Linked DNA regions of Homo sapiens: region 1 is linked to region 2. Evidence: fine-mapped expression QTL. A gene starts in region 2. The other region holds a variant in brackets. All regions are shown on one strand. Distances are from middle to middle. Region 1 overlaps PRKCG (protein kinase C gamma). Region 2 holds the start of MYADM (myeloid associated differentiation marker).

Region 1 (2,867 bases), 22 kb before region 2:
ACGGGCCTCGCCAACTAAACGGGGAGTGAGGAAGAGTGTGACGGGTTAGAGATCCAGGAAGGGGCTCCCAGCCCTCCTCCAGTCAGCAATCAAGAGTTCCAAGCTTGGCCAGGCACGGCGGCTCATGCCTGTAATCCCAGCACTTTGGGAGGCCAAGGCGGGCGGATCACAAGGTCAGGAGATCGAGACCATCCTGTGAATGGTGAAACCCCGTCTCCACTAAAAATACAAAAAAAAAAAAAAATTAGCTGGGCGTGGTGGCAGGTGTCTGTGGTCCCAGCTACTCAGGAGGCTGAGGCGGGAGAATGACGTGAACCCAGGAGTCGGAGCTTGCAGTGAGCCGAGATTACGCCACTGCACTCCAGCCTGGGCGTCACAGCGAGACTCCGTCTCAAAAAAAAAAAAAAAAGAATTCCAAGCTCTCAGTCTCGTTTCTCATGACTTCTTACCTCTCCAGAACCCAGAAGACAGGGCATAGAGCCCTTTCCGCAACCAGTGACCCTGAAATCAGATCCAGAGCCCTTCTCTCCATTAGGAACCAGAGTTTGGACCCTGGCCATGTCACCAGTACTGAACCACAGCCTCCCTCAGAACCAGGTACTCTCCCTTCTCAAGATCCTTATACCCAGAAAGCCATTGCCGGGCACGGTCCTCACCCCTGTAATCCCAGCACTTTGGGAGGCGGAGGCGGGCGGATCACCTGAGGTCAGGAGTTCCAGACCAGCCTGGCTAGCATGGTGAAACCCTGTCTCTACTAAAAATACAAAAATGAGCTGGGTGCAGTGTCATGCACCTGTAGTCCCAGCTACTCAGGAGGCTGAAGCAGGAGAATCGCTTGAACCTGAGAGGCGGAGGTTGCAGTGAGCTGAGATCATGCTACTGCACTCCAGCCTGGGCAACAGAGCGAGATCTTGTCTCAAAAAAAAAAAAAAAAAAAAATTAGCCGGATGTGGTGGCAGGCGCCTGTAATTCCAGCTACTCGGGAGGCTGAGGCAGGAGAATCCCTTGAACCCCGGAGGCAGAGATTGCAGTGAGCCAAGATTGCACCACTGCACTCCAGCCTGGGTGACAGAGCAAGACTCCATCTCAAAAAAATAAACATAAAA[T/C]AAAAACAAAAAAGAAAGCCATTGGCCAGGCGCGGTGGCTCACGCCTGTTAATCCCAGCACTTTGGGAGGCCGAGTCGAGGGGATCACCTGGGGTCAGGAGTTCGAGACCAGCCTGGCTAACATGGTGAAACCCCGTTTGTACTAAAAATACAAAAAATTAGCCGGGCTTGGTGACACGCGCCTGTAATCCCAGCTACTCGGGAGGCTGAGGCAGGAGAATCACTTGAACCCGGGAGGCGGAAGTTGCAGTGAGCCGAGATCGCGCCATTGCACTCCAGCTTGAGCAACAAGAGCGAAACTCCGTCCCAAAAAAAAAAAGAAAGTCAAAGTCATTAACAGGTGCAGAAAGTTGCAAGAAGCCAGGTTGGAGGCGGGGCTTCGAGCCAAAAGGGGTATGGCTGGGTGTGCTCGGCCTTTGGGGTGGGGTCAGGAGTGTGGGCGTGACCATAGAAAGAGGCGTGGCCCCATCTTTGGGGTAGGGCTGGGCCAGCACAAGTGCCTTGGGTCAGCCCCGCCTCACACTTGGGGAGGGGGCGGGGCCAGGCGAGGGGGCGGGGCCTCACCAGTTACGTGGATCTCATCTGCTGTGGGAGCCCGGATCTCCAGCTGCAGGCGCCCGCGGCGCTCGGTGTGGTCCACACCGCACAGGGAGGGCACGCTACGCACACAGCGCCGGTGCACGTTCATCTCGCAGCCTGGAGGGGAAAGCTGCGGGTAGCACCTCAGGCCCCGCCCCCAAGCCAAGACTCCACCCCCCACCCCATCCCGGGCATTTCCCGGAACCCAGACCGGGCGCTTTGGAAGGGCCCTGGCAAGGCCCAGGTCACTCACAGGAGCATTTCATGCCCTGGTGCACAAGCCCGTAGAGGAGGGAGCCACAGTGGTCGCAGAAGGTGGGGCTGCTGTAGCTATGCAGGCGGAACTTGTGTTTGTTCCGGGGGTCCTGGGGGCAGAGAAGACTGGCTTAGGGGGCGTTGGGAGGGTCCTAAAACCCCAGGGGAGGGGCCCTTTTATCTTTTCCTCCTGCCTTGCTCTCTAGGTCAGCCTGAGGCTCCATCTCTTTCACTCTATGTACCAATAATCATTGAGCACCTGCTGTGTGCCAGGGACTGTTCTTGGTGTGGGGACCCAGCATTAAACAAATGAAAAAAAAAAACCTCTTTGTCACATGGAGTTTACTTCCTAATGGAGGGATACAGAATGTAAACATGGTAAATAAATAAAACATATAGTTTGATGGTTGGTAATGGGTGCTCTGGAGAAAAAATGAGGCAGGGATGGGGACCACCAGAAGTTGGGGGATTGAAATTTTAAATACGGTGGTCCTGGCTGGGTGCGGTGGCTCATGCCTGTAATCCCAGCACTTTGGGAGGCCGAGGTGGGCGGATTGCCTTGAGCTCAGGAGTTCCGGACCAGGCTAGGCAACATGGCAAAACTCTGTCTCTACTAAAAATACAAAAATTAGCCGGACATGGTGGTGCATGCCTGTAATCCCAGCTACTCAGGAGGCTGAGGCATGAGAATTGCTTGAATCCAGGAGGCCGAGGTTGCAGTGAGCCAAGATTGTGCCACTGCACTCCAGCCTGGATGACAGAGCAAGATTCTGTCTCAAACAACAACAACAACAACAAAACTGTGTGCAGGGGGAGTGGCAGGGGGGCCTCGCTGACCAAATGATATCTGGGCAGAACATGAAGGAGGCAGGAGCTTCCAACCTCCCATAGTTCCCATCCCCCCAACTCCCACAAGTTATTATTTGA
Region 2 (2,898 bases):
TCAGTTAACTGTTTGGGCTGCGGCGGACGGAACCCAGCGAAAGTGCACGCCCCGCGGGCCGGCGTGGGCGCGTGTGTGATCTTAACCCCGCGGGGGCGGGGGTGCGGGCGGCAGTGGCGGGAGAACCCTGGGCGGCGGCTGTGGAGGCGGGCGGCCCAGCCAGAGCCGGTGTCTCCGCGCCTTATAAGGGCTTCGAGTCGGCCCAGGCATCTGGAATGTGTCAGGGACCAGGAGGCGGTGCCCGGACCCCCGCCCGCCTCCGGGGCTGCCCGCCCTCTCCCGGATTTCCGGGGGGTGGGGACCCCGACTCTCAGGGTTGGAGGCCTGCATTTCTGGATCCCTATAAACATGGGCTGAGAGCCCCCCCAAGAGCATCTCTAAGACCGGAGTGGGCAGGGACCCGGGCCTCTGAGGGGCTCAGGCTCCAGGCCGGAAACTGCACGCGGTGCTGGCGTCAGGCCCGAGGCCCAGCTACGCCTCCCACGGCCTCCCTAATCGCCATTCGGGGCTTGCGGGAGCACCTGGGAGGCTCCACCCGGAGCCAGACACTGCCTGCCCCCACGCCCCTCCAGGACCCTCGAAGGAGAAGGAAATCGGGACTGGCCCAGCGTCCCGTGCTCTAGAAGGCGGGCTACTGCCCCGTCCCAAGCAGGGGAGGAGGACGAGCGAGGGCGTCACTCATTCTGTCCCCCGCGGAAGGTGGGCTAGCCGCGGAGGGGGGCGCGCAGGGGAGGGGGGCGCGCCGAGGGGAGGGGAGGGGAGGGGTCCACCCCGCCCTTAGGGCCTCCAGCCATCGCCCGAGATCAGAGCTCAGGAATGCGCAGCCAGACCCTGGAGGGTGAGGAAACACCCCTCCGGGATTCCTCGCAGCGCACCCGACTCTCCGGGCCACACCCAGCCCCTCAGTGTCCTCCCTCGTCCACTCCAGACGCCACACCCATCGCTCACGCTGAGAATCGGGCCCCGGAACCCCAGCTTCGGCTCTCGGCACCCAGAGGTGCGGGACGCAGCCCTGTCTTCTCCTCCTTTCCCAGCTCCTTCTGCACTTCGGAAGCACGGGGCTGGATCTTAACACCCCCCTCCCTCGGCCTTTCAGGAGCCCAAAGTTCCGATTCTGTCTGTCCCCTGGATGGGGAGGGGTCAGTAATTCTGAATTCCTTCCATTCTCATTCCCAAACCCAGGACACCTAACCCTAAGCGCTTCCCCTCCTAAAGGACCTCCACGTACCAGATTCCAGCCTCCAACTAGGGCACCTACGAGTCCCCATCTCTCTACTCCCGCAGACCCAGCCCCTCCTCCCTCAGACTCAGGAGTCCAGGCCCAGCTCCTCCTCCCTCAGACCCAGGAGTCCAGGCCCTCAGCCCCTCCTCCCTCGGACCCAGGAGTCCAGACCCCCCAGCCCCTCCTGCCTCGGACCCGGGAGTCCAGACCCCCAGCCCCTCCTCCCTCAGACCCCGGAGTCCAGGTCCCCTTCCCCACTCTTCCAGACGTATGACCTCCACAGTCCAGGTCCTCAGCCCTCTCCTCTGCAGAACCCCAAGAATCCTGGCCCAGCCCCAGTCTTTCTAGGGACCCAGACATTCTGAGACCCAGCCCATTCCTCTCTCTGGCCATAAAGACCCTAGACTGTTGCTTATGCCCTCTGGGGTCCCCACAACCTCACCTCAGGCAGCCAGTGGCGACTGCGGCTGAAGCAAAGACGACAGCGGCAGCTGGAAGGGTCTGAGGGCTGGGTGGGGTTGGAGGGCTGGGGAGCCAGCGCGGGCGGGACGGGGGCGGGGCCGGGGCGGGGCGCAGCTCCGGCTAGGGCGGTGGACAGGGACTTCCCCGAGTCTGGGCTATCCCAGCCCCGCCCCGAGGCGGGGCCAAGAGCAGACCACGCCCCCCAGAGTAAAAGTAGCGTGGAGCTCCCGCCCCACCCCAGTGAGCAGGGTGGAGGGCTGAGGTCACGGTTGCCGTGGTGACAAAACAGGAAGACACAACAGCTGGCGGCGTGGAGACTCCTGGGGGCTGCCCTCCTCGACACAGCCCTAGAGGAGTCTCCCGGGTAGGCCAGGGAAGACCGTTACCATAGAAACCCCGCATGTTTAGGGTTTGTTTAGTGCAGAGCCCCCCAGCTCAGGTCCCCGCCCCCGTCTCACCTCACTCCTTTCTTCCGCTCCCTTCCTACCCCCTCCTTCCTGGTCTGTTCCGCCCCCACCCCTTCCTTGCCGGATGAAACCTTAGACACCTGGGTCGCAGCGGATTGGGGGACCAGGCCCCTCAGTTCAATGGGGGGGCTAGGATCTCTGTCTCTTGGAGCCCTGAGGGAGAGCAGAATTGAGAGCAGTATTCCTGGGCTTTAGGTGGTTCTGGGCTACGATCCCTGACTGATGGGTCTCCCCAAGAAACAGAGGCTAGATTCCTGTATTTAAGGACTTGAAGGGGCGGCAAAATGCTCCCCTAGTACCCACTGGCACCGGGCGCCGCAGGGTAAGGGACTCGGGCTGGACGCAGGTCTCAGATATCACAGTGGATAGGGGTGGGGTGTGTTGGGGGCAAAATTCCTGGGAGCTAGCGCGGTAGCAGTTGGGGGCCCGGATTCCTGGGCTCCACAGGATGCCTAGGCTGAGGCCCAGATTCTTGGCTCAAAAGAACAATCAGGCCTGGGCGCGGTGGCTCACGCCTGTAATCCCAGCATTTCGGGAGGCTGAGGAGGGAGGATCCCTTGAGCCCAGGAGTTCGAGACCAGCCTGGGCAACATAAGGAGACTCTGCTCTATTAAAAATAAATCATCATGATCATCATAATAGAACCATTAAAGCTCAGACTCGGGTTTTCCGAGCAGGTGTTGCAAGCCTAGCCGCCTGGGTCTGGAAGGCAGCGATATTTTTGGCCTACATTCCTGACTCCTGGAT

Evidence for each region.
Region 1: its variant is fine-mapped to the expression of MYADM in whole blood (TOPMed, PIP above 0.99).

Annotation. Positions count from the first base shown.
Region 1 is chr19:53,888,821-53,891,687 of GRCh38, reverse strand. It overlaps PRKCG (protein kinase C gamma), which reads right to left. Exons shown (of 18, transcript NM_002739.5): 4 at 1,939-2,050; 5 at 1,671-1,802; 6 at 1-14. Among named protein-coding and RNA genes, the nearest start is that of PRKCG, 8.1 kb to the right of the region's middle. The variant T/C (reference allele first, on the strand shown) is at 1,107.
Region 2 is chr19:53,866,710-53,869,607 of GRCh38, reverse strand. MYADM (myeloid associated differentiation marker) reads right to left here and starts at 1,725. Exons shown (of 3, transcript NM_138373.5): 1 at 1,665-1,725. MYADM-AS1 (MYADM antisense RNA 1) reads left to right here and starts at 501. Exons shown (of 3, transcript NR_184033.1): 1 at 501-699. RefSeq lists a silencer at 110-169 and enhancers at 1-835, 1,945-2,898.